Regions from separate parts of the Homo sapiens genome. Here region 1 is linked to region 2. The links come from fine-mapping of genetic effects on gene expression. A gene starts in region 2. The other region holds a variant in brackets. All regions are shown on one strand. Distances are between the middles of the regions. Region 1 has its middle 4.7 kb from the start of OPLAH. Region 2 holds the start of WDR97 (WD repeat domain 97).

Region 1 (2,898 bases), 42 kb before region 2:
CAGGCCCTCATAGCTGCTGAGGAGGGACATGCCTGGCAGCCAGCGGCGGCAGCTGGCGGGGGCCAGCAGGCCGGCCAGGGACAGCAGACCCTGCTATTGTGAGGTCAGCAGCTGCCCCTGCCCCCTCGCCTCAGCCGCATTCCGGGCCTTCAGGGTCAGGACCCAGCTGTTCCAACCACCCCGTGGCAGAGGTGGCCTGACCTCTGACCTCCAGCCCCCTGAGGGCCAAATGGCCAGTGGGTGCCCAGAACTGTCCCAGGTCTCTGGCTCACTCCAGGAATCCTCCTCCTAGAAGATGGAAGCTTCTTTGACCCGGCCAAGCCCAGGTGTGTCGTGGGGGAAGGGATATGGGATGCAGGCTTCCGCACCCACCCGTCTGACAGCCCACTGGCCACCAGCCACAGCCTCCAGGCCTGGCCATGCCAGGACATAGTTTTAGGCAACCAGGTGTGGTATGTCGGCAGTCACGGTTGGCACAGCTTCTGAAGGGATCAGGAAGGGTGGGTGCGTGGCTGCCCTGCAGGATGGGGCCCAGCAACAGCAGGAGCTGGACAGCAGCAACCAGGGCAGGCCAGGGCTACAGGGGCAGAGCCAGCCGAGAGCACGCTAGGACAGCATGGGAGGGGGCTGCAGGCCAAGGGATGCACCAGGCAGTGCTAGAGCCACCACAAGGGAGGCTGGGCCTGTTTCTGGGGGCACAGGGCCTTGGCATTGTCACATGGAGGTTGCAGCGAGCAGGCAGGTGCCCTGGAAGAGGCACCACATCTGGGCCATAACCTCAAGGAAGGGGATGGGCCAGGCGGCCCACCAGAGGCTGAGGACCAGGACCTAAAGACACACCTCCCCAGGGACAGGAGAGCCACCCTCACCCTCAGTGGTGACAGTGGTTTGCATTTTAGATCACATAAAGGACTTTCTTCTTCTATCCAATCTGTCTTTTTTTTTTTTTTTTTTTGAGATGGAGTCTTGCTCTGTCGCCCAGGCTGGAGTGCAGTGGCGCCATCTGGGCTCACTGCAAGCTCCGCCTCCCAGGTTCACGCCATTCTCCTGCGTCAGCCTGCCAAGTAGCTGGGACTACAAGTGCCCGCAACCACGCCTGGCTAATTTTTTTGTATTTTTTTTAGTAGAGTCGGGGTTTCACTGTGTTAGCCAGGATGGTCTCAATTTCCTGACCTCGTGATC[T/C]GCCCACCTCAGCCTCCCAAAGTGCTGGGATTACAGGCGTGAGCCACCGCGCCCAGCCTCCAATCTGTCTTTAAAGGGACACTTCTGCACAGTTACTTTGGTTTTCTGGCTTTTTCTTACATTATGATTATTATGTATTTTACATCATTTTTCTCTTTTGCTTGTTTGATGGTCTAGTTTCCACTTGCTGATTTGTAGACTGTCCTGGGATTCTCAAACTCCTTTCCCTGGCTACTCGAGTGGAGCCATCGCAGGGCCCCTCACCTGTGCGAGTGGGGGCAGTGCCCCTGAGACTAGTGCTCCAGGAGACTGGGGGCAACTGTACTGAATCCCAACAGAAATTGTGACAATTTAATTCTCGGCCGGGTGCAGGGGCTCACACCTGTAATCCCAGCACTTTGGGAGGTTGAGGCGGGCAGATCACCTGAGGTCAGGAGTTCGAGACCAACCTGGCCAACATGGTGAAACCCCATCTCTACTAAAAAAAAAAATACAAAAATTAGCTGGCCGCGATGGCAGGCACCTGTAATCTCAGCTACTCAGGAGGCTGAGGCTGGAGAATCACTTGAACCTGGGAGGCAGAGGTTGCAGTGAGCTGAGATCGTGCCACTGCACTCCAGCCTGGGCAACAGAATAAGACTCTGTCTCAACTACAATAAAATAATTCCTATAATTAGGAAGAAAATGGAGTAGAGTATTTTTATTTTTTTATTTTATTTTATTTACTTTTTTTTTTTTTTGAGATGGGGTCTCACTCTGTCACCCAGGCTGGAGTGCAGTGGTGCAATCATAGCTCATCGAAGCCTTGACCTCCCAGGCTCAAGGGATCCTCCTACCTCAGCCTCCCAAGTAGCTGGGACCACAGATGCATGCACCACCATGCCTGGCTAGTTTTTTTGTTTTTTTTTTTTGGTAGAAACAGGGTCTCGCTATGTTTTGTTTTGTTTTTTGAGATGGAATCTTGCTGTCACCCAGGCTGGAGTGCAGTGGCGTGATCTCAGCTCACTGCAAGCTCTGCCTCCCGGATTCAGGCCATTCTCCTGCCTCAGCCTCCCGAGTAGCTGGGACTACAGGTGCCCGCCACCACACCTGGCTGATTTTTTTTTGTATTTTTAGTAGAGACAGGGTTTCACCGTGTTAGCCAGGATGGTCTCTATCTCCTGACCTCGTGATCCCTCCGCCTTGGCCTCCCAAAATGCTGGGATTACAGGCGTGAGCCACTGCACCTGGCCCGGGGTCTCACTATGTTGCCCAGGCTGGCCTTAAACTCCTGGCCTCCTGCCTTGTTCTCCCAAAGTGCTGGGATTACAGGTGTGAGCCACCACACCTGGCCAAAGTAGAGTTTTTCTCTTTTTTTTTTTTTTTTTTTTTTTGAGACAGAGTCTCACTCTGTCACCCAGGCTGGAGTGCAATGGCACCATCTCGGCTCACTGCAACCTCCGACTCCTGGGTTCAAGCAATTCTCCTGCCTCAGCCTCCCAAGTAGCTGGGACTACAGGTGTGTGCCACCATGCCTGGCTAATTTTTTTGTATTTTTAGTAGAGACAGGGTTTCACCCTGTTGGCCAGGCTGTTTTCAAACTCCTGACCTCAGGTGATCCACCCACCTTGGCCTCCCAAAGTGCTGGGATTAGGGATTACAAGTATGAGCCACCAAGCCTGGCCTGGAGTAGAGTATTTCTGATAGTTGGAGAGATTTTACCCCAAAAGAATGAGG
Region 2 (2,846 bases):
CACAGCTGTGGAACGCGGTGGACGAGGAGATCTGCCTGGCTGAATGTGACATCTACAGGTGGGCCGGCATCCCTGCAGATGGCCTCCAGGCCTCCAGGTTTGTGGGGCACTTGGCGCCTCACACCACCTGTCACCCTATACTCCCCAGCTATAACCCAGACTTGGACTCAGATCCCTTCGGGGAGGATGGTAGCCTCTGGTCCTTCAACTACTTCTTCTACAACAAGCGGCTCAAGCGAATCGTCTTCTTTAGCTGCCGTTCCATCAGGTGGGCACCCCCCGCCTCCTCCCCCACCTCCCTGTTGGGCCGATACAACTTCCCCAGCTGTGCCATCTCCACCCAGCTTTGCCCTCCCTGAACATCCTCCCTGGGGCCAGCAGCAGGCCTGGGTAGGGGTCCTGAAACTGGTTTCCCTGCCTCCCCTCAGTGGCTCCACCTACACACCCTCAGAGGCAGGCAACGAGCTGGACATGGAGCTGGGGGAGGAGGAGGTGGAGGAAGAAAGCAGAAGCGGGGGCAGTGGGGCCGAGGAGACCAGCACCATGGAGGAGGACAGGTGTGTGATGGGGGCCATGACCCGGGTCCTTGAAGCCTGGAGTGGGTACAACAGGGTGGGGGCCTCCTCTACTTGGTCTAAGTGGTGGCTCCTGAAGGCCCACTGTGTGCCAACCTCCGCCCAGGGTCCCAGTGATCTGTATTTGATGAGGAGGAGCCGAGGCCCCAGCTTCATCCAGCTTCAACCAATGCCTGGACCTGTCCACCTGAGAGGCCCCTGGGGCCTCCCCAGCTGCTGGCCAGACCCTGGCGCTGCCACAGTCCTGGCACTGCCCAAGGCCATACCTGCCTAGCCCTTTGGCTCCATCCTGTGGATGCCCACTCACCCCTCAGACTCCTGCTGCCCATGCTGTGGCCGGACTTGTCAGCAGGGGGCCTGGTGGGAGGAGCGACTGCCCTGCCCAAATGAACTGCCACAGCAGGGACAGCTGGACCGCAGAGTTTATTTTTGTATTTCTACTGGGCCTGCACACTCCAGCCCAAAGGGTCTGTGGCCGGAGGCCCCACGAGCAGGCCCCAGCAGTCACCGGCTCTGGTCTTGGGCCGGCCCCGGTGCCCACCTGTACCCCCACCTCGCCCATTTGGCCGCGTGCACTGAGTGTCACTTTGCTGCAGCTCGTTTCTTTCCAATAAAAGTTTCTGTGACTTAGTGTGGACCTGATGCGGTGTGGGGGTGGGGCCTGCGGTGTGGGAGTGGCCGGCGGCATCTGGTATCCTAGCAACTGCCGCTGCGGGCCGTGACCGCTAAGTCCTGGGAGCTGTTGGGCTCTGGGACCGCAGTTGCTGAAATGGAGGCAGAGGTGTGGGAGGCAGAAGGCTACAACCTAGTTCTGGACTCGGACCTGTATGATGCGGATGGCTATGATGTCCCAGACCCTGGGCTGCTCACCGAAAAGAATGGTGAGGGGGCCTGGCCTCGCCCTCCGGGCATCCCGCTAGGAAGTGGGTCTCATTCGGGCTTGGGTTCCGTCCCCTGGAACAAAACTCCCCTGGGCAGTCCCTGGTAGGGCAGGGCCCCTGGAGGAGGGCTCCCCATAACCGTCAGGGTCGAGGACCTGAGGCTGTAGGTGGCAGAACTTCCAGTTCCTGCCCGCAGAGTTGACTTTCACGGAGCCGTCGCAGGTCCTGCCCTTTTTGACCAGCAGCCAACAGTGGCAAAGCCTGACCCCGCGCGCCCGCGCCCGCCGGCTGTGGCTGCTTCTGCGCACCAGCCTCCACGAAGTCGTGGAAAAGGTGCGGTGTGCCTGTCCTGCGCCTCCTGGCCTCTTTCCGGATCTGGGCCTTCCCTTAGGGGTCCCCTAGGCCGGAGTAGCCCCAACCTTTGATTGCGGGCCCGCCCACCCCGGCCCACAGGAGAAGAGAGCCGAGCTGCGCGCGGCGCGCCTGACGCATGGGCTGGAACCACTGCGCCGCCTGGAGGTGGCAGCCGGGCTGCGCTCGGTGGCGCAGGACCCGGTGGGTGGACGCTTCGTGGTGCTGGACGGCGCGGGCCGCCTGCACCTGCACAAGGAAGACGGCTGGGCACAGGAGACGCTGCTGGCGCCTGTCCGGCTTACGGGGCTGGTGACCGTGCTGGGCCCGCTGGGTGCCGTGGGCCGTTTTGTAGGCTGGGGCCCCGCGGGGCTGGCAATTCTGAGGCCCAACCTCAGCCTGCTGTGGCTGAGCGAGCAGGGGGTGGGCAGGGCCCCGGGTTGGGCGCCCACCTGCTGCCTGCCGGTTCCCGACCTCAGGCTGCTGCTCGTTGCGGAGATGAACAGCAGCCTGGCGCTCTGGCAGTTCCGTTCAGGTGGTCGCCGCCTGGTGCTGCGAGGGTCAGCACTGCACCCGCCCCCGAGCCCAACAGGCAGGCTCATGCGTCTGGCTGTGGCGCCGGTTCCTCCCCACCACGTCCTGCGCTGCTTCGCGGCCTATGGCTCGGCCGTGCTCACCTTCGATCTGCATGCCTGGACTCTCGTAGATGTGCGCCGGGATTTGCACAAAACGTGAGGGGGATCCCCCTAGGGAGGGCCAGGCATGTAGGGGCACACGGCCCTCACACACAAGGCGATGTTAAGTCCATTGGGATTCTCCCATTCCCCACCTGTAGCACCATCTCGGACCTGGCTTACTGCGAGGAAGTAGAGGCAATGGTGACAGCTTCCCGGGACAGCACCGTGAAGGTGTGGGAGGCTGACTGGCAGATCCGGATGGTGTTCGTGGGCCACACAGGTGCTCTGAGTTCTCTGCACCCCGAGCCTCGGCCCTTTGCCTCCAGCCGCTCTAGGCTGTCCAGCATCTCCGCAGCTCCGGC

The links. PIP is the estimated chance that this variant, and not a neighbour inherited with it, causes the effect. A credible set is the group of variants that fine-mapping cannot tell apart.
Region 1: its variant is the best candidate, but not a certain one, in a credible set for the expression of WDR97 in blood mononuclear cells (TOPMed, PIP 0.66).

The regions. Positions count from the first base shown.
Region 1 is chr8:144,063,905-144,066,802 of GRCh38, forward strand. It overlaps a transcript of OPLAH not described here and a transcript of EXOSC4 not described here. Among named protein-coding and RNA genes, the nearest start is that of OPLAH, 4.7 kb to the left of the region's middle. The variant T/C (reference allele first, on the strand shown) is at 1,183.
Region 2 is chr8:144,106,407-144,109,252 of GRCh38, forward strand. It overlaps WDR97 (WD repeat domain 97), which reads left to right and starts at 1,333. Exons shown (of 24, transcript NM_001316309.2): 1 at 1,333-1,456; 2 at 1,653-1,789; 3 at 1,910-2,538; 4 at 2,643-2,764. The coding sequence starts at 1,345. It overlaps MAF1 (MAF1 negative regulator of RNA polymerase III), which reads left to right. Exons shown (of 8, transcript NM_032272.5): 5 at 1-58; 6 at 149-268; 7 at 429-557; 8 at 682-1,205. The coding sequence ends at 703. RefSeq lists an enhancer at 2,276-2,806.